Regions from separate parts of the Homo sapiens genome. Here region 2 is linked to region 1. Evidence: fine-mapped QTL for protein levels in blood plasma. A gene starts in region 1. The other region holds a variant in brackets. All regions are shown on one strand. Distances are from middle to middle.

Region 1 (5,998 bases):
ACCCACTGCCCACTGGGTTCTGAATCAAATGCAAGAAATGGGTGGGCATTTCAGAAGACCTTTTCATCCCTTTCTCCCTTCCCACTGCATTCAGCAGCAGCCTGTTCTGAGCCAATGCCCAGAGCACCCTCCTTTAGCCTAGAAGGCAGCTGGTCTCAGAGTCAGACTGTGGCCTGTGCCTGGAGGATGGACACGGATCTTTGGAACATACATGGTGTCCAGGTCCCTTCTGTGGGCAGAGCCTTTTGCAGGTTGCAGATTAATTTCACAGCCAAGTGTTCCAATGCAGGAGGCCAGGAGAGCAGTGGTTCTCTCAGCCAGTGGCCAGAGGTCCAGCTGTGAAGTGCAGGAACTGTGGTAAGCACCTTGCCAATGCTGTTGTCTCATGGAGCCCACACACGGTCCTGCTGCTCACAGAGAAGGAGATTGAGGCCCAGAGAGGCAAGGTGCTGCCCCGGGGTCACACAGTCAGCCAGAAACTGACTCGGGGTCAATGCATAGTCATCTGATGCCCAAGCCTGGTGCTGGTTACCCACAGCGCTCACTGCCTCCCAGCTGCGGAAGGAGCCCAGAGATGGGATGTGGGGGGTCTGAGGTTGGCCACACGGTGGATTTAAATCAAGCCAGGGCAAGCACTGGGTCTCCTGACTCTGGATCCACGGTGCTTTCCACTGCCTGCCCCACATGTGTGGGCAATTATAAGTCCCAGCTCTTCTTCCCGCAGAGGAGGGGGGCTGCTGATAACTGCTGTCTGGGAGGAGGGTGCTGACCAGATGGTCTCTTTCCTCTCTCAAGACCAAGCCAGGGCCCGGGCAGACCTTGGAGCAGTCAGACCTGAGGCTGCACTTTCTGCTGGGGAAGGTGCTGAAGCCAGGAGCAGGCTCTGCAGGAGGATGGAGATTCTTCCCTCTGACTGGGAGCTTCCCGGGGAGCACGAGGTAAGCCTTTAGAGTCAGGCAGACTTCAGCCTAAACACCACCTTAACTCACCGTATGGCCCTGGGAAAGTCACTTAGCCTCTCCAGATCTCAGCTTCCTCATCTACAAAAAGTAGGTAATAACACTGATTTCAAAAACTTGCCATGAGGACTCCAAGGTGTGTGAAGTACCAGGCTCTATGCCTGCATGAGGTAGGTGTTCAGGGACTGTATGTCCCTGAAGGCTGTGGATTCAGGGTCTCCTGCTTGGAGACAGGGGAGGACTGCATGACTTCAGAACTTGTCACTAGAGGCCTCTGTGCAATTGGGAGGTCACAGAGGGAAGCAGAGATACTCCTCCCTGCTTGCAATGGAGGAATGCTGCCTGGAGTAGCCACACGATGTCCTGGAAGGGCACCTGTGAGAAGGCTGGAGGCCTGGGTTCTAGTCTCACACTTGGGAGCAGAAGGTCTTCAGTGAGCTCCTCCTCCCTTTCACCAGGACATTTTTTCAGCCGCACTGCCTATCCAGGGCTGGGCACTGGGGGAAGAGCACAGGATGGGGAAACCTTAAACCTTTCCCCAGCAGAAAGTGCGGCCTCAGTTCTGACTGCTGGGGCCTGAACAATCTCTGATGAACAAACAGAACATAAACAGATCACCAACAGGGGAGGGCCAAGTAACATGGCTTCAGCACAAAGTGCATGGCTAGCACTTGGAAGACAGGAAGAACCTAGGAAGGCTGCCTGGAAGAGGTGGTGTATGGAATATCCCTGAAAGAAAAGTGATGAGGAAGGGCATTCCAGAAAGGGGGAAGAGGGAGGGCAAATGCCCACAAGCAGGATGGTGCGCATTCCTTCTGGGAATTCTGGGATCTGACTGGCGGGAACAAAAGGCCCAAGTTTGGAGTAATGGGGCACGGGGAGATTCCAACCTCTCCAGGCTGTGCCACTTACTAGCTGTGTGGCTACAGTTATGTGGCTGCGTGAGCCTCAAGTTCCTCATGTATAAAACGGAGGTAAAAACAGTCACTGCCTCTGGGGTTGCTGGTGAGCATTACATGAGATCAGTCTCATAAAGCACTCAGCACAGTTGCGGCGTGCAGTAAGTGTCAAGCAGTGGCAGCCTCTGTTAGGAGCTGGGACTTTCTCCAGGCACTGGGGAGCCATAGGCGGATCCTGGGCAGGGAGGTGGTGTGATTGGATTTATGCTTTAGAATGGCATGGAGAAGGGGTAGAGTCCAGAAGGAGGGAGACAACGAGGAGGCCTGAGCAGCTGCCTGGGACCAAAGGAAATGGCCCAGTGGCTGACCCCTTCTTCACAGAGGAGCCCCCAGATCTGACAGCCAGGTCCCAGCCCCCAGACCCAGCAGCATGACCGCTAGGGGGTTGCCATGGCCGCCCATCACCCTCGAACTTTCCTAGCCCTCAAACTTTTCTAGCTGCTGGGGGTTTAGAAGGATATCTTAAGAATCTAGAAAATTTGCAAATCCATTTAAATCCCCAGAGGTTGCCTGGCGGCTGACTGGCCTAAAGCCAGACTGATTCTTAGAAACAAGGCTTGGGCCAAGGAACAGCGGCTATGGTCCTGAGGTCCCCAGTCCCCTGCTTTCTGTGTACCCTGCCTACCTTCTCCCAATTCCCCTCTCCCGCTCTTCCCAGCTCTCCCCACTCCCCATTGACTGTGCTGTGCTTTGGAGGCCCCCAGTCAGCACCCAGAAACCCCTGAGGATTGTTTGATGAAGGCAGGAGCAGCAGGGATGATGAGGTGGAGGCCACTCACCCCAGAGCAGGGGAAAGGAGAAAACTGGCTCCTCCATCCCTGACATCACCCACAGTCTCCCAGCCTCCTCTCATCTTGTTTTGTTAAAAATATCTTCCCTTTTTTTTTTTTTTTTTTTTTTTACCTACTCGAAGAGATGCAGGTTAGGGCAAAGGGACAGGGCATGGGGCTGGGGTTCCCACTTTTTCCAGCACTTACCTTGCTGCTGATGGCTTCTGGTGTGGGCACAGTTCCAGGCTCTGGACAGTCACCCCCTCCAGGAAGTCCTCCTTACTGCCCTCTCCCAGTTATCAGAAAGACTGCTGGTCCCAGAGTGGGTAACAGCTGAGTAGAAGGACAGGCAGGACTGGTGCAGGCTCCTGAAGGCTCAGGAGAACAGAGGGATGGAGGAAGGGGGCTGCTGTAGGGGAGAGGAGCGGCCCAGCTTCGCCTCACTCCCCAAGCATCCTTCGGGAGGAGCAGAGCCGCCAGAGGGGCCGCCCTGGGTCTGGCTGTCTGCGTTGGGCAGGGCGAGCACAGGCTGCTGCTGGGCAGCAGGGCTGAGGGGCCGGCTCTCTCCTCCTCCTTGTTGATCTCCTCTCTGGCTCCAAGTTGCTCACAGAGCGATCCTGGGTCCCAGATAGGGCGGGCAGTCACTGCTGGCTGCTGGCAGCCTCAGGAGCTCACACCACTATGGGCTTCCATGCCCCCCCACTTCCCCCGCCACTTTGGGGGAAAGGCTGCAGGGTGGCTTCTGATTGGCCCAGCTGGGAGAAGGGGGGGCGGCGGGGCAGGGAGGGTGGACGCGTGCGTCTGTTTTCAATTTCAGTTTTTTTCCCCCTCTCTCTTTCTTTTCCCCCAAGTTTCTTGTTTTTCTTCTTTTCACTCTGCTTACTCCCTCCCATCGCCCGTTCGCTCAGGATGTGAGGGGATGCTTAGAAATTCCACAGCCCACGCCAGCCGCCAGCTGCTGAGTCACTTTTGTCAAAGAGTGGCCTCGGCCCCACTTTCCCGATGCCCATGTCGGGTGGCGGCCTCCCCTTGCCATGGCACCCAGGGAGATCATTTCTCAGTGCCTCAGTTTCCCCATCTGTAAAGGAGACTCTGATCATCTCTGTGGTTGATTCAGTCAACCTTCATTCATTGAACAAGCATACTGAGCATTTACTACATTCTAACACTGTACTGGGTGCAGGGGACAGTAGCAAGACGTGGTCCTGACCTCAGAAGCACCAGGCTAGTGAGCAAGATATTCATTGGGCAAGCAGGTGCCCGGTCGGCAGACAGGAGGCTGAGAGTGCATTTAGAAGGACCCCTAACGGAAGCCTGAGAGAATCAGAGAGCACTGCTGAGAAGAGGTGACATGGAGGAGATGGAAAGATCCTCCAAGATGATCAGCCGTTTTTCAGAAGGACAAACCAAGGCCCAGGGGTGAATTGGCACAGAGAGGGAATGTGATTTGGTCAAGGTCATCCAGCACAGATTGGATATCTCTGGATATTGACAGATACATTCCTTTTCACGTCTCAAAGCCCCTGGGGTGCAAGGAGAGGATTATTTGCCCCATTTTATAGATGGGGACACTGAGGCCCAGAGGAGCAAAATAAGCTTCCCAAGCTTACGCAGCAATGGCAGAGCTGGGGCAGAACTAGGTCTCATGAGACACATGATGGAAGAGACACAAGTCATCTGACCCCCACCCGAGACCCCTATTCCAGTGTAGATGAACCCCCTGCCCTGCTTTCTTCCTAGGTTCCCCCTGTGGCTCTTTCATTCAGTCACTCAACAAGATACTTTCTTTTTTTTTTTTTTTTTTTTTTTGAGATGGAGTCTTGCTCTGTCTCCCAGGCTGGAGTGCAATGGCGCAGTCTAGGCTCACTGCAACCTCCGCCTCCCAGGTTCAAGTGACTCTCCTGCCTCAGACTCCCAAGTAGCTGGGATTACAGGCGCACACCACCACACCTGGCTATTTTTGTATTTTTTGTAGAGACCGGGTTTCACTATGTTGGCCAGGCTGGTCTCAAACCCCTGACTTCATGATCCACCCACCTCAGCCTCCCAAAGTGCTGGGATTACAGGCTTGAGCCACCGCACCCAGCCTCAACAAGATACTTTCAAGTATCCGTTTTGTTCCATTTCCATTCTCTGGCTCTCCTTTCCTACCAGGGTCTGCCAAGACTCCTCCAGTTCCCCCAGCTGGGTCTCTTCTTCCACCCTCAGCTTCTCAGATCAGAAGACATCTCCAGTTACAGACTCCTAGCCCTCAGATGGCAAAGGGCATTATTTTAGAAGGGCATATAGAGTGGGCTTACCACCCCTGCTCCCACTACTGCACCCACAGGGCAACTGAATTCCAGAGGGTGAAGAAAGCTGTCCCAGGTGACACAGGTAGAGGCTGGCTCTGCCCTCCTTCCCTCTGCGCCGCTAAGTCTTTCCTCCTCAGCTTCCCCCAGACCCCTGTTCACAGAGCAGAGGATTTGCGTGAGCTGGGATTCCATGCCCACCACAGTCAACTATCTTGCATTTCTTGGTCTAGTCCCAATCGGGATTGCCCAGCAGAGCATCTGGGCTGGACCACATAGAAGGAGAAGTGTTCTCAGACTGGTTCCCAGCCACGGGTTGGGGACCATAAGAGTACCCCGAGAGAGGGGGCCTGGCCAGGTCTTTGTGGCAACAGGGAAATAGGGGAATGTGAAAAGATCCCACAGGCCACAAGGTCAGGCTTGCACAGGGATTTCTTGTGCCCAAAGATTCCGTCAGAAATTTACGACTCCCCTCCTAGCATCTGCCTGGGCCATTCACCTCTGAATCCTTGGCTGACCCTCTGCAGCCAGGCCAGCCTGGGGGAGGCCACGAGACACACCAACCCCCTAGTCCCCAAAGAAGCTAGTCTGGGAGTCAGAAGACCCAGCCACAGACTTATCAGGAGAACTTGAATAAGTCCCTTGCCCTGCCTGAGCCTCGGTTTCCCTATTTGTACATAACAGTTGTGGACTCACTGTGCTACAAGGCCCTTGGGATGGTCCGTCTGCAATTTCCCTTAGAGCTGGACTCTAGCAAGGGAGAGGAGGCTGGTGGGCCCTAGGGCAGGGGTACAGCTGGGGCCAGAGATGCAGCACAAAGGGGAGGGGCAGTTGGCGGTGGCTCCCCTGGGAAGCTGGCGGCCTCCAGTTTCCGGCCAGCCCAGCCGTCCTGAGGCCCATCTGGAATTACTTAGCCCCTACTGCCATTAACCCTTGGTGGGCACCAGGACTGTCACTCCTCCTCTCAACTGAGATATGGGTGGGAGGTGCAGAGCTACAGGGAGCAACCCAGGGCACTC
Region 2 (12,314 bases), 16 kb before region 1:
GGGGCTAATATGGATGCTGGGGCCAGCTCCCAGGTTGGGAACAGAGTTGTACTAACAGTTCTCTGTTCTGGGTCAGTACTGTGGCTGATGCTGGGACTAGTGATAAGGTTGAATTTGGGGATGGGGCTTCCCGGACCTGGGATGGCAGTTGGGCTTGGAAGTCAGGTTGGGGCTGGGGCTCTGGCTAGTCAGAAAGTCTAGGTTGAGATAGGGTTGGATTTGGGGCTGACACTACATTTTGGTTTGGGGTTTATCCTGGAATTGGGGTTTTGGTTGGCACAGAGGCTAGCTAGGGCTGCACTGGAGTGTGGCTGACTATACCCCGGGGCTGTGACAGGCACTGGGTCCAGCTCAGCCCTGATCACTGTATCAAAAATGCAACTCTCACCATCACTCTGCACCCAGCAAAGTGGGTGAGGGTGGGGAGCGTTGAAGGAATTGGGGATTGGGCTGAGCCCAAGGCACACACCAACCACGGTGATGTTGATGGCCTTTTCATCCTGATGGTCATTCACACTCTCCGTCACATTGCAGGTGTAGGTCCCCGAGTCTTCTAACTCGGCACTGGGGATGTGCAGGATGGAGCGGATGTGGTAAGGCATATCCAAGAGGAAGTCAGTCACCGGCTCCACCAGCCGCCCACTCTGCAGCAACAGGTTGGGCAGGCCCCCCAAATCAGGAGGGGCCGGGGAGAAATCAGCCTGCAAGCCAGATATCCACCCGTTCCTGGCCCCTCCTCCGACCCCTGCCTGGCCCCACATTACTTCTTTGCGGGGGTATGTCCACTCGAAGTTGACCACCTCATTCCCGATCACAATGCACATGAGGGTGATGTTCTCACCCTGGCGGACCACAGTCTGCACTGCGTTCACAGAGACGTTGATGGATGACACTGGTAGAGAGAGATTGGCTTAGGTCTGGGGAAGTCACCACCAGCCACTAGCACTTCAGCTTGGGGATAGGGTAGGGGGCTAGAGAGGGAAAGGATGACTGATGTAGAAGATTCATTCATTCAACAAATATTTACTGAATACCTACTACATGCCAAGTACTATTCTGGACACTGGAGCAACAGTAGTGAACAAAGTGGACAAAATCTCTGTTCTTATGGAGCTGACGTTCTAGAAGGGATAACAGTCTGGAAATCAAAGTACCCTCTGGAGATCTATGTACAGGAGAAATGTATTGAGCACATAACATGTGCCAGGTACTCTCCATCTTTTATTTAATCTTCACAATTGATCCTATGAGGTAGGCAGCCATTGTTATCCCCACGTTACAAGAGGGGAAGCAGGCTCAGAGAGATTATGTGCTTTGTGTAAAGTCACTCAGACAGGAAATAGCAAAGCTGGGATTTCGACCCAGCTGGCTCTGAAGCTTGTGCCCTCACCGACCATGTTGCACAGGCCAGCTCTGCCACTATCGAATTCTGCGACAGGGGACAAGCTCCATCCTCTCTCTGCGCCTGAGTTTCCCTCTTCTGTAACATGGGGAAAACACTATCTTCCTTCGAAGGCTGTGGTGAGAATCCACTGGGAAGTGGAGTCCCACACTTTGTAAACTGTAAAGGGCTATTCCTCTGTGGAGGGTTATACTTGCCTCTGCTGAGCATCAGGCCAGAAAGGGGGCTCACCCTGGAGTCTGTAGACATAGTAGGCATCAGAATCCACCTCCCTGTCCCCAATGGTGGTTTTGCAGATGTAGCTTCTGTCCTCAAAGATACCAGAAAAGCCACGTTGGTGATCATAGGGGACAGGCAGTGCAACGTCCCCTTTCTTCTCGTGCAGTGTCACCACCAGCTGTGGGTCTGTTACTCGGCATGGAATGGTGATCTCAGTTATTTCCGTGAGAAAGATGAATAGTTCCTCGGCATCATTAGGGAGGAAGCCCACGGTGGGATCTGCCAGGAGTGGAGCCGTGAATAAATCAGGGGAACTGGGTTTCTGGCCATCCCCTGAATTGCTGTGTGGCAAGTCATTTGCCATCTCTGGCCCTCTGTCTCCCCGTTACAGAATAGGGATGCTCCCAGAAGAGCATAAATCAAATGTTAGAGCTGGTCCCTTCCAGCTCTAATGTTTGATATTGACAGTGCCAGGGTAAGAAAGAAGGCAAGTCACAAGTTGAAATGCAGCTGATATCTGGAGCTTGGAGAATGGGGAAGAAGGGATGTGGGGTCAAGAGGGAGCAGATTGGAAGCAGCTGAGAATATAGAGTTCTTGGGAGGCAGGAATAGGGTGACTGGCAGGGAGCAGGCAGATCACCCAGACCAAGGAGTGGGTGCGAACACACTCCCCGACTGAGCCAGGCTGGTTCCATGATTGTCTGCTTTTCTAGGATGGCTGCATTTCACAATAAACTAAAGCACTCTCTGGACTTCCCCTGATGCCTCCAGTT[G/A]ACAAGAGGGGTAAGGAGTGGGCACACAGGCTGGGAGCCCTTACCTGGCACAAAGATGTAGAGCCGTTTCCGCTCATCGGTCTCCAGTCCACGGGAGTCATTGTGGGTGCAAAAGTATTCTCCCGTGTCTAGCCCAGTGAGGTTGGTCAGTGTGAGCACGCTGGAGAAGGTGCCATCCTGGGCCTTGGCCATTTCCTGTGGGGGCTCCTGGGACATCCGTTCCCACACCACCGGAGCTGAACCCGAGCAGGTCAGAACGAAGGTGCTGGAGACATTGAGGACAAGCTCTGGCCCCGGGGGTGTGACGACCAGGCCCTGAGAGATCTGTGGTTCCAGAAGTAACAGGAGAGACAGCAACAGCAGCTCGCCTTTGGGAGAGGAGGTATCAGACATCAGGAAACAGGGGCTTCAGCACCTCTCCCAAGGCTGAGCCTGCGAGGAGGCCACGTATGCACAGCCCTCAGGTCCTTGAGGAGCACAGCTCCTTTATCCGACAGACTGGGGCTCTCCAGCCATGGCTCTGAGGACCGCTCGCCCAGCTCCAAGGCCCCAGGGATTCCTCTGGACTGCCTCTGTCAGTCCCGTTAGACCCCAGCCTCTGAGTCCTTCAGCAGTGCCATGTGTAGGCAGTAGGCACCAGAAGGGGCCAGGAAATCCTCGGGAAGCAATTCCCTGGCCTCCAGTTCCTGCATTGCTTCCCAGGTCACTTTCTGAGCCTCTTCCCTACAGCTCTCTGCCCCCTCCCCCGACTGCCCAGGTTCTGCCCAAGGCCCAGAGGTGGCTCTGGGTGGGAGAGAGATGGGAGGGAGGGGCTTAGGTAGCTCAGAGGGGGGCCAGAAAAGATGCTGAGGCCCTTTTGGGCTGGAGGGAACTGGGGTTGGGGGTGTGTGTGTGTCAAGTGATTGGTCCCCCTCCACGACATCCCCTGGAGAAGGATTTTTCAGGCCACGCCCTCCATGCCCCCTGGTGATACAGATCAGGAGGGGAGGTGGGCGGTCAGGCAGCCAGTCCATCTTATGGCCAGCTGCCGGGCAGGCTGCTGGCTGGTCATTAATTGCTGGGTCAGTCGCTCAGCCCCTGCAGAGCTGAAGACATGTTAACGGGCAGGAGTGAGGGGTGGGGTGTGCTGAGAAGCCCAGCAGGGACCTGGAAGCTCCCAGCCAATGAGGGGTCCAAGCCGAGTGCCACAGATCCACCAGACCGAGGATAGGAGGCCAGGGGTGTGGGCCAGAAGGTGGGATGGGGTCTGGAGGGCCAATCAAAGGATTTGAGCTGATGGTTCTGGACAAGCAGGGGCCCACTGACGCTTTCTGAGCTGAAGGGCTGGCAGCTGGAGGCCTCCACAGAGCCCACTGGAAATCCTGAAAACTAAAGCTGAAGGGCAGGGCAGTGTGCCTGGTGCTTCACGCCCTGCCACCAGCACACATCACCCCTGCCAGCTCCAGGGTTCCACTCCGCAGCCCCCCGGGTCCCCTACCTTATCTCCCATCTACCCACCTTTGAGGGCCAGAGCTGGCATCGCACCCGGAAGCCGCATGGTGTCCTGCAGAGTTAAACAGGAGTCAGGGCCCAGGGCAGGTGGAGGCAGCGACAGGGGCTATCTCACCACCTGGCTCCTGCAGAATGAGCCCCAGCTTGGGCCACCCAGCCTTCATGTCCGAGGGGCTGAAGTCAAAAGCCACCACGTCCCAAGCCTGAAAGGGCACTCATGACCACAGGCTGTCTCCTCTCCATCCCGGACTTAGCCTTGGGGTCCTGGCCTTTGCTTTGGCTCTGCTTGTGACTCTCACGTGGCCTCGGCTGCGTCCCCAGACTCTCTCTGTGCCTTAGTTTCCCTGTCTGTACAGTGAGGGAGGGGAAGTTGGGCTGGATGGTATCCAGTAGCCTACCAGCTCTGACAGCCTGTCCTCCGGGTGACAGTTCCAATACCAGGCTCTTATCTGCCAGGACAAATATTTGGGAAAGTGTGATGAAAGGGATGGGAGGAGGAGGGGGGAGGCCAGAACCCAGAGAACTCCCGCAGCTCCACAAGCACAACAGGAAATGGAGGAGGCTGTGGGCTGTGGGAAGGGAAGCCGGGGAGCCGGGGCTGTGGAATGTGGGAGGTGGGCCTGGACACCTTTACTCAGCCCAGAGCATACAGGGAGGCCCAGGGGACAGCGGCTAGGGGCTGGGCCCAGGAGAGGTCCCATCGAGCAGCCAGGCCTCACAGGTCCTTGGAGACCAGTGAAGCCAGGCTCCCCCCACCCCCACCCCCAGGGTGCAGATGGGGAAACTGAGGCTCTGAGAAGGTGAGAAGTTTACCCAAGATTCCACAGCAGAGCCTGTCTGAGAGGGAGACAGAGAGAAAGAGACCTGGAATGATAGAAGTAGAAAGAGACAAAGACACAGAGACAGAGAGGAGGTGCCCAGAGAGACAGCACCAGAGGCACTAAGAGACAGAAGCAAGGACAAAGACAGAGACAGAAGCAAGGACAAAGACAGAGACAGAAGCAAGGACAAAGACAGAGACAGAAGCAAGGACAAAGACAGAGACAGACTGAATGGGGTGGCCCTTGCTCTCCTCTATCTTGGAAGACACACCTCAGGTCCCAAGAGACCACCAGGAGCCAAGTATGCCAAGAGTCTGCCTGCAGCATTGGCAGGAAGGACGCCAGAGGACAGGGGTCGCAGAGCATGAGCTTTGGGAGGTGACGGCATGATGAGGCAACAAGGAGCCTCCTCTGGCTGTGGGGCTGCCCAGCCTGGCCTGCCTCTGAAGGCCATGCCCAGCTTGCCCCTACCTCCCCATCTCACCCCTTTTAGTTTTCAGTTTAGGTCTGCAGACCGGGTTCAGGCCCCAGCATGCCACCTCTTGTGCCATCGCTCTCCCTGTGGCCTAAGTCCCCAGCTCTGGAAGTGGATGATGGTGAGTACCTCACCTACCAGGGCTGCATTCACATGTCAGGGGTGGGACATAGGCAAGGCTCCTCCCGCCTATGGACCCCCAATCTTAGCTCTTCCCAACACCCCAAGAAACAGTCTGAGCAAATCAGCTCTTCTCCTCCCTCCTCCCTTTCAGACTGCCTGCCTGAAGGTCTCCTCGTTTCTTCCTCTCCCCTCTCTGAACTGCTCCTGACTCAAAGCCCAGCCCTTCTGACGCCCCCTCCAGCCTCTGCTCCCCACCATTCCTCTGCCCCAGCCCCTCCAGCTGGATGCCAGGCCTCCTTGGTCAGGAGGGAGCAGCGCCAAGGCGGAGCCAGCAGCCCCCACAGAGGCCCATCTGCCCCTCCGTCGGTGCCCCTCTGGCTGCCCCCTTCCTGCTAGAGATCTCAGCCAAAGAAAATCATTAGCAGAGGCTGGGGGAGGGGGTCACTTCAGCTTCCCTGCCCCTCCTCTCCCAGTCTCCCTGGCTGGCCACACTGTTTATTATTCTAAAGGAGGAATTTGGCCGGCTGGCCAGGAGAAGGGAGGTCACTGCAGCGGGGCTGGCCTGGCTCTGGAAGGCTGGGCTGGCTATGTGGGCTGGGCCTTCATGGCATGCAGCCCCCGACCCTCCTCCCATGTGGCACTCCATCCTCTCCCCTTCAGGCTCTCTTCTGCTGGGCCTGGGGCTGGGGGTGGCTTAGAGACTCTGAGCTAGGAGGTATGCTTTTTGAATGGGCAGCAGAGGCCCAGAGAAGGACAGAAGCATGCCCCAGTCACACAGCAAAAAGGCAGATTCAAGCTGTGGGGAGAGGACAGGCAGGCAGTGTGGATGCCGTAGGGAGGTTGTAGGCACCCCAGGGATCTCGGACTGGCTTTACTATGAATAGAGCAATCAGCTCCCCTCATAAGCACCCTGGGACCCACTGTGAGACTGAGCGAGTCTCCAGCCTCTCTGAACTCTGCGTCCCCATCCATATAGAGAGGTTGGCAGGTGTCATCTCAAAGAGCTGTCCCTATGGTGAAGCTCTGCCTTTCTGACAGGCCAAAGAGAAGATTCTAGTCACCACGAATCTTACCGGGGTGTTTTGAGGAGGTGGGGGCTAGTAAGCAGGAGGGGGCTACATTCCTGAGGCTAGAGTCACATAAGAATCCACCAGCCATCTCATTCCACGAAAGGAATTTCCATGACTATTCAGCCACAGACTTGCTGTGCGGGCTTTGACAAGTTGTTTCCCTCTCTGGGCCTCAGTTTCCCCATCTATACAATTAAGAGTTAGACCAAGGCTGGGCATGGTGGCTCATGCCTGTAATCCCAGCACTTTGGGAGGCCGAGCCAGGCGGATCACGAGGTTGAGAGATCGAGACCAACCTAGCCAACATGGTGAAACCCCGTCTCTACTAAAAATACAAAAATTAGCTGGACATGGTGGCAAGTGCCTGTAGTCCCAGCTACTCAGGAGGCCGAGGCAGGAGAATCGCTTGAACCCAGGAGGCGGAGGTTGCAGTGAGCTGAGATCACGCCACTACACTCCAGCCTGGTGACAGAGTGAGACTCTGTCTCAAAAAAAAAAAAAAAAGTTAGACAACAGTGTTTCAACAGTGTTTCAGGGGACTTTCCGCTGGTGACGTGGAACCCCAGGAGGTGGCAAGGAAAGAGTGGTAGGGACAAGAGGCTGGAGGGCCAGGGAGGGCAGAGAAGGGCTTAGGGCACCCAGACATGACTTCCCAGGCCATCCTGGATGACTCCCTGATACCCCACATTTTCCACCAAATGTGTTAGGCCTCTTTGTGCTTCCCAGAGGCTGTTCTGGTTCCAGCCAATCCCAGGGAGGCCCAGGCAGCTGACTTGGTGGTAGTGGGCTTGCCTGTGACAACTTCCCCTCTTTAGGAGGACTGTACTCTAGGGAAGGGCCACCTAGGACAAGCTGGATGTCACAGTCAGAGAGCAGGCACTCCCCCTATCTGCTGTACTCTCCTGCCCAGGGAGGCCTCTAGAGCAGAGAGAGGGAGGGCACCCCTAGGTGTCCCCCTTTTGCCCATGAAGAGAGTGCTATGTGCCAGGAACCCCTCCTGATTCCTCCTATTCTGGCCAGGTTGTAGGCTCAGAGGCCCAAAGTGGAGATCATGCCCAGCTCCTCACGTGACTCAGAGGGACCCCTTAGGGGAGCAGAGTGAGGACCCCAAGTCCGGGGCACAGAGTGGAACCCCAAGTTCAGGGGAGAGGAGTGGGGGGCCCCAAGTCTAGGGGAGCGGAGTAAGGACCCCAAGTCCAGGGGAGCAGACTGGGAACTCCAAGTCAAAAGGAAGCAGAGTGGGGACCCCAAGTCAAAGGAGCAGAGTAAGGACCCCAAGTCCAGGGGAGAGGAGTGGGTGCCCCAAGTCCAGGAGAGCAAGCATGCTTGGGGAGTCATTCTCAGAGCCCCAGACTTCCCTCCTCCCAGCACGTACAATTCTCCACTCCTTTCCCACCGCCTTAATCTAAATAAATCCAGCCCATCTTGGCCACATCCGCCAGCAACAGCTTCCCTCCCTCAGGGTCCTGAGGCTCCCACGACACAGGCAGGCCAGGGAGGGGGCCCTGCATTGCTGCGGGGGTTGATGGGGGGAGCCTGCACATGGTCAGCACATACACACAGCACAGATGCACAGATGCCTGCCTACGCACTTCCTCGCACACTCCTCTGAAACACATACGTATGCAAGAGGCCATGTGGGTGCCAAGCCCTCATGCAGGTACTAAACATGTACACACCCACACAAAACACATGTGCGCAGCTCCCACTGTGCCCAGCACCCGTGGAGATGCACCCGTGTGCAACAGTTCACATGTGTATGCAGCACATACAACATGCACAGAACATGTGCACATAGAACCCCAAATTCACCTGAACACACAGCCATATGCATGAACAGACAAGCCAGAAAGCCCGTGTTACTGCACCAGGAACCATTCTGAGCATTTGGCACGTATTGGCTCACTTGATTCTCCATCAACTCTATGAGGTAGATACAGTGATCATTTCCATTTTACAGTGGGGAAACTGAGGCAGAGAGCATTTAATAACTGGGCTAGGAACACAGAGCCAGAAGGGGTAGAGCAGAGATTAAAGTGAAGTGGTGTGACTCTGTGTTCTATGCCACCAGCTCCACCGCTTCTCTGACCAACGTGCATGTTTGGTTGGGTCTGGGGAGAAGGCAGTGGGGACTGAAAAAAACAGATGGATTTGAGAGTTACTTAGCTGAGAATCAACAGGACTGGGTGACTTAATATTGAGGGGCTGGAGAGGGAGGTATGCACCTCTGTATCTGGCTTGGAATACTGGGAGGCAGAAGTGTATGTGTGTGTGTGTGTACACGCGCACGTGCTGAGGGGACGATGCCATTTTCTGAGATGAGAATGAGGTCAAAGAGCAGGAGTGAGAGCTGCAACTGAGCAGGTTTAGGATAGGGAGGGTCTGTGGGCACTGAGGGGACAGTGGGATGTTCAGTCTGGAGGCCAGGAACAGGCCGGGTAGAAACAGCAGTGAGATGAGAGAGAGAGGGCCATGCTGCAGGGAGAGGGGGGTGCTGGGGGCAGGCAGTCTCAGGCCTGGGATGCTCTGAATAAACCAAATGCCTGAGGGAGGAGGAGGCCTGGCCATGGGGTTATGGGGTCAGAGTCTTGGAATGTCAGCACGCCAGAGCCCTCAGGGATCATCTATCTGATCTAACTGCCTTCCTGTGCTCCATTGTGCTCGTGGGGAAACTGAGGCTTAGGGAAGGAAAGCAAGAGGGCCCATTGTTTTGGCCTAGACAAGATGGGCTCGGGTGATCGGTGGGGCTGAAGCTCACCTGGCTGCGCAGCTCCCCGCCTCCAGCCCCTGCTAAGATGTGAGGCTGGTGGCTCAAGGCCCCAGGCTTCAGGCTATAGCTGCCCCTGCCCTCTCCACAGCACACCTCTGTCCTGCCACACATTGACCTTTGTTTCAAAGTCACATTCTCTGCACGAGCCCAGCCAGGCAGGGATTGGCGACTGAGACTCAGAGGAGGTAATTTGCTAAGTTGTTGGGAGAAGTGAGCCACAGACTCCAGTCTCCTGACCCAGTCCAGTCTTCTGTTCTCCGTACCGGGGCACTTTACAGGCCTGGGACAGACTTTGGAGGGGGGTTGGGGTGGGAAGTAAGAAGACCTGGCTCTAGTCCCGGCTGTGACACCCACTTATAGGATAGTGGTCCCCCCTATCTGCAGGGAATACATTCCAAGGCCCCAGTAGATGCCTGAAACTTTGGATAAAACCAAACCCCATACATACTATGTTCTTTTCCCTGCAAATACATACCTATTATAAAGTTTTATTTATAAATAAGGCACAGTAAGAGATGAACAACAATAATAATAAAATAGAACAATGATAAAAATATACTGTAATAAAAGTCATGTGACTGTGTTCTCTCTCTTAAAATATCTTACTGTATCGTTCACTCTTCTTGTGAAGACGTGGAATGACACGGTGCCTACGTGATAAGAGGAAGTGAGGTGATGGCGTAAGAATTGTGAAGTAGCGTTAGGCTACTACTGACCTCCAGACATTATCAGAAGGATCAGGTCATCTGCTCCAAGTGATCCTGGACCACCGAGCCATGATGGTGTTGATGGCTGGATGTCAGTAGTGGACTTTGTTGATGACTAACAGGTGGGTAGCGTATATGGACAAAGGGATGATTCACTCCTGGGCGGGACAGACAGGACAGTGCAAGATTTCATCACACTACTCAGAACAGCACAAAATTTAAAGCTTGTAAGTTGTTTATTTCTGGAATTTTCCATTTAATGTTTTTGGACCACAGTTGATCTGGGGTAACTGAAACTTCAGAAAGTGAAACTGCAGCTAAGGGTGACTACTGTACAGTCCTGACCCTCTCTGAGCCTCAGTTTCCTTATCTGTGCAAAAGGGTGGGCAAGAGTGTCTTGGGAGCACTTTCAGGGCTGACATGCTGTGGCCCTCAGGGCTCCACTCTGGGAAGGCAGCTGTGCTGAGCTGGAATGCTGGGCTCGGGGTGGGGGTGCTGGGGAGGGACCCATGTCATGACTCAGCTCAGAGAAGGCTGCCAGTTCCAGGCCTGGGAGTCTGTGGGGGCAAGAGGCATCTGGAGCCAGGGATGAAGTCCTCCCGCCAGCAGCTAAAGAGTAGGAAAGGGATAGCAGCACAGCCTGGGCCTGGCGGCAAGTCTGGTCCATGTGGCTGTCCCCAAGCAGGCTGAGATGTGGGTGTGATTGGGTCATGTGATCAGGGAGCCCCATCCTGGGAGCCAGAGAAGAGAGCAGGATCGGAGGGTGAGGAGACAGTTACAGGTGGAGGGGAGAAACTGGGGAAGTGGCCGAGGCTCCCACCCGCCCCCTTCAATCCTATGCTCGCTCCACTTCCAGTTGTTGGAGAAGGCTCAGTGCTCCACCCCTGCACCACGAACCTCCCCACCAGCCTCGGGATCACTCTAAGGGCTACAGAAAGAGAGCAGCCCGGCGCAGCCCACTCGGTGTTGGAGCCATTCTCTGTGCCACGCTGCTTCTAGGCCCGGGGTCCTCTTTATGTTTCTCCAGGTACCTACAAAGTCCCCTGAACAAAGCAGCAGAAATCGACTAAGATGGGGCCTGGCGTGTGCTCCCGCTGCTCTGGAAGTCCAAACTGGATGGAAGAATAGCGCTGGTTCCCTGGAAGGCTGCTAAGCCCCCTGCACCCCCTCCTCCAGCACAGGCTCGGCTGCCTCTGGCTATCCCACCGCCAATCTCCTCACCTCCAATCTGTCCCCTCCACCTGTTCTCACACCCCAGCCAGAGGGACCTTTCTGAAATACCTATGTGACCTCTCCGGCCCTCCTCTGCTCTCCATCCCCCTCAGGCAAAGGCTGGCTTCTCTGCCCAGCCTTTCAGAATCTTCCGGCCCGGCCCTGACAGCTCCCTCACAACTGAGGGAGGAAGGCGGCTGCCCCTCCAGCTCCCCAGGGCCCAAGCCAGGCCCTCACACTCGTCACTCACTGCATGCTCCTCTCCCCATGAGGCCTCCCCAGGGAACACAATGGAAAGAAATGACCTATTTTCTGGAAGTCCAAAATAAGATGAAACATCTGTCTGGAATGGGGCCAGGCTGATAAAGAACGGGCTGATCTCCCCAGCCCGAGCCCCGCTCTCCTGCAGCAAACACCCCCTCACCCGTCAGAGTGCCTGTGCTTGGGGGTGGGGGCAGCGATGCGGCTGGCTACTTGGAACAGTGCGTGGGAAAGCGCTCAGTGTGTGCCTCACGGCTGCTGGGGGCCCAAGGGAGGGGGCCTGGGTCCCCAGGAAGGCTGGGAAGCAGCCTGAGAAGGAGGTCAGTGAGGGAGGGAGGCCTGCTGCACACCCCTGCCCACCGGCTGCAGAGCAAGCACTTCCTGCCTCCTGCGGTGCCTTGAGGGTTACCCCCAGGGCCCTGTGGATTCCTGGCCCTGAGTCCCCCCACCCACCCCGGCCCCATCTGGGCCTCCAACAGCCTTAAAAATAACAATAATAATAATAGCTACCTCTGATTTAGTACAGTTGACCCTTGAACTACACAGGTTTGAACTGTGCAGGTCCACTAACACGTGAATGTTCCACACATGTGAAACATCCACCTCCTTCCCACCCTTCCACTCCTCCACCTCTTCCGCCTCTGCCACCCCTGAAAGCAAGGCCAACCCTTCCTCTTCCTCCTCCTTCCCAGTCTACTTAACGTGCAGACAAGGGTGAAGACTTTTTCAGTGATCTACTTCCACTTAATATAAACTGAATGTATTTTCTCTTCCTTGTGATTTTCTTTCATCTAGCTTACTTTATTGTAAGAACATAGTATATAATATACATAACAGACAAAATATGTGTTAATTGACTTTACATTATCAGTAAGGCCCACAGTAGGCTGGCTATTAGCAGTTAAGTTTTTGGGGAGTCAAAAGCTATACATGAATTTTCAACTTTGCAGTTGGTGGCTGTCCCCAGCCCCCTCATTGTTCAAGGGTCTG

What was found. PIP is the posterior inclusion probability: the model's chance that the variant is causal. Sun 2018 read protein levels with aptamers (SomaScan).
Region 2: its variant is fine-mapped to the plasma level of the PDGFRB protein (Sun 2018, PIP 0.95).

The regions. Positions count from the first base shown.
Region 1 is chr5:150,152,502-150,158,499 of GRCh38, forward strand. It overlaps PDGFRB (platelet derived growth factor receptor beta), which reads right to left and starts at 3,344. Exons shown (of 23, transcript NM_002609.4): 1 at 2,896-3,344. RefSeq lists enhancers at 64-584, 585-1,104, 5,262-5,998.
Region 2 is chr5:150,133,117-150,145,430 of GRCh38, forward strand. PDGFRB (platelet derived growth factor receptor beta) reads right to left here. Exons shown (of 23, transcript NM_002609.4): 2 at 3,892-3,937; 3 at 2,439-2,762; 4 at 1,634-1,900; 5 at 765-892; 6 at 470-644. The coding sequence starts at 3,931. Among named protein-coding and RNA genes, the nearest start is that of PDGFRB, 17 kb to the right of the region's middle. RefSeq lists enhancers at 2,430-2,941, 2,942-3,451, 3,452-3,963, 4,474-4,985. The variant G/A (reference allele first, on the strand shown) is at 2,395.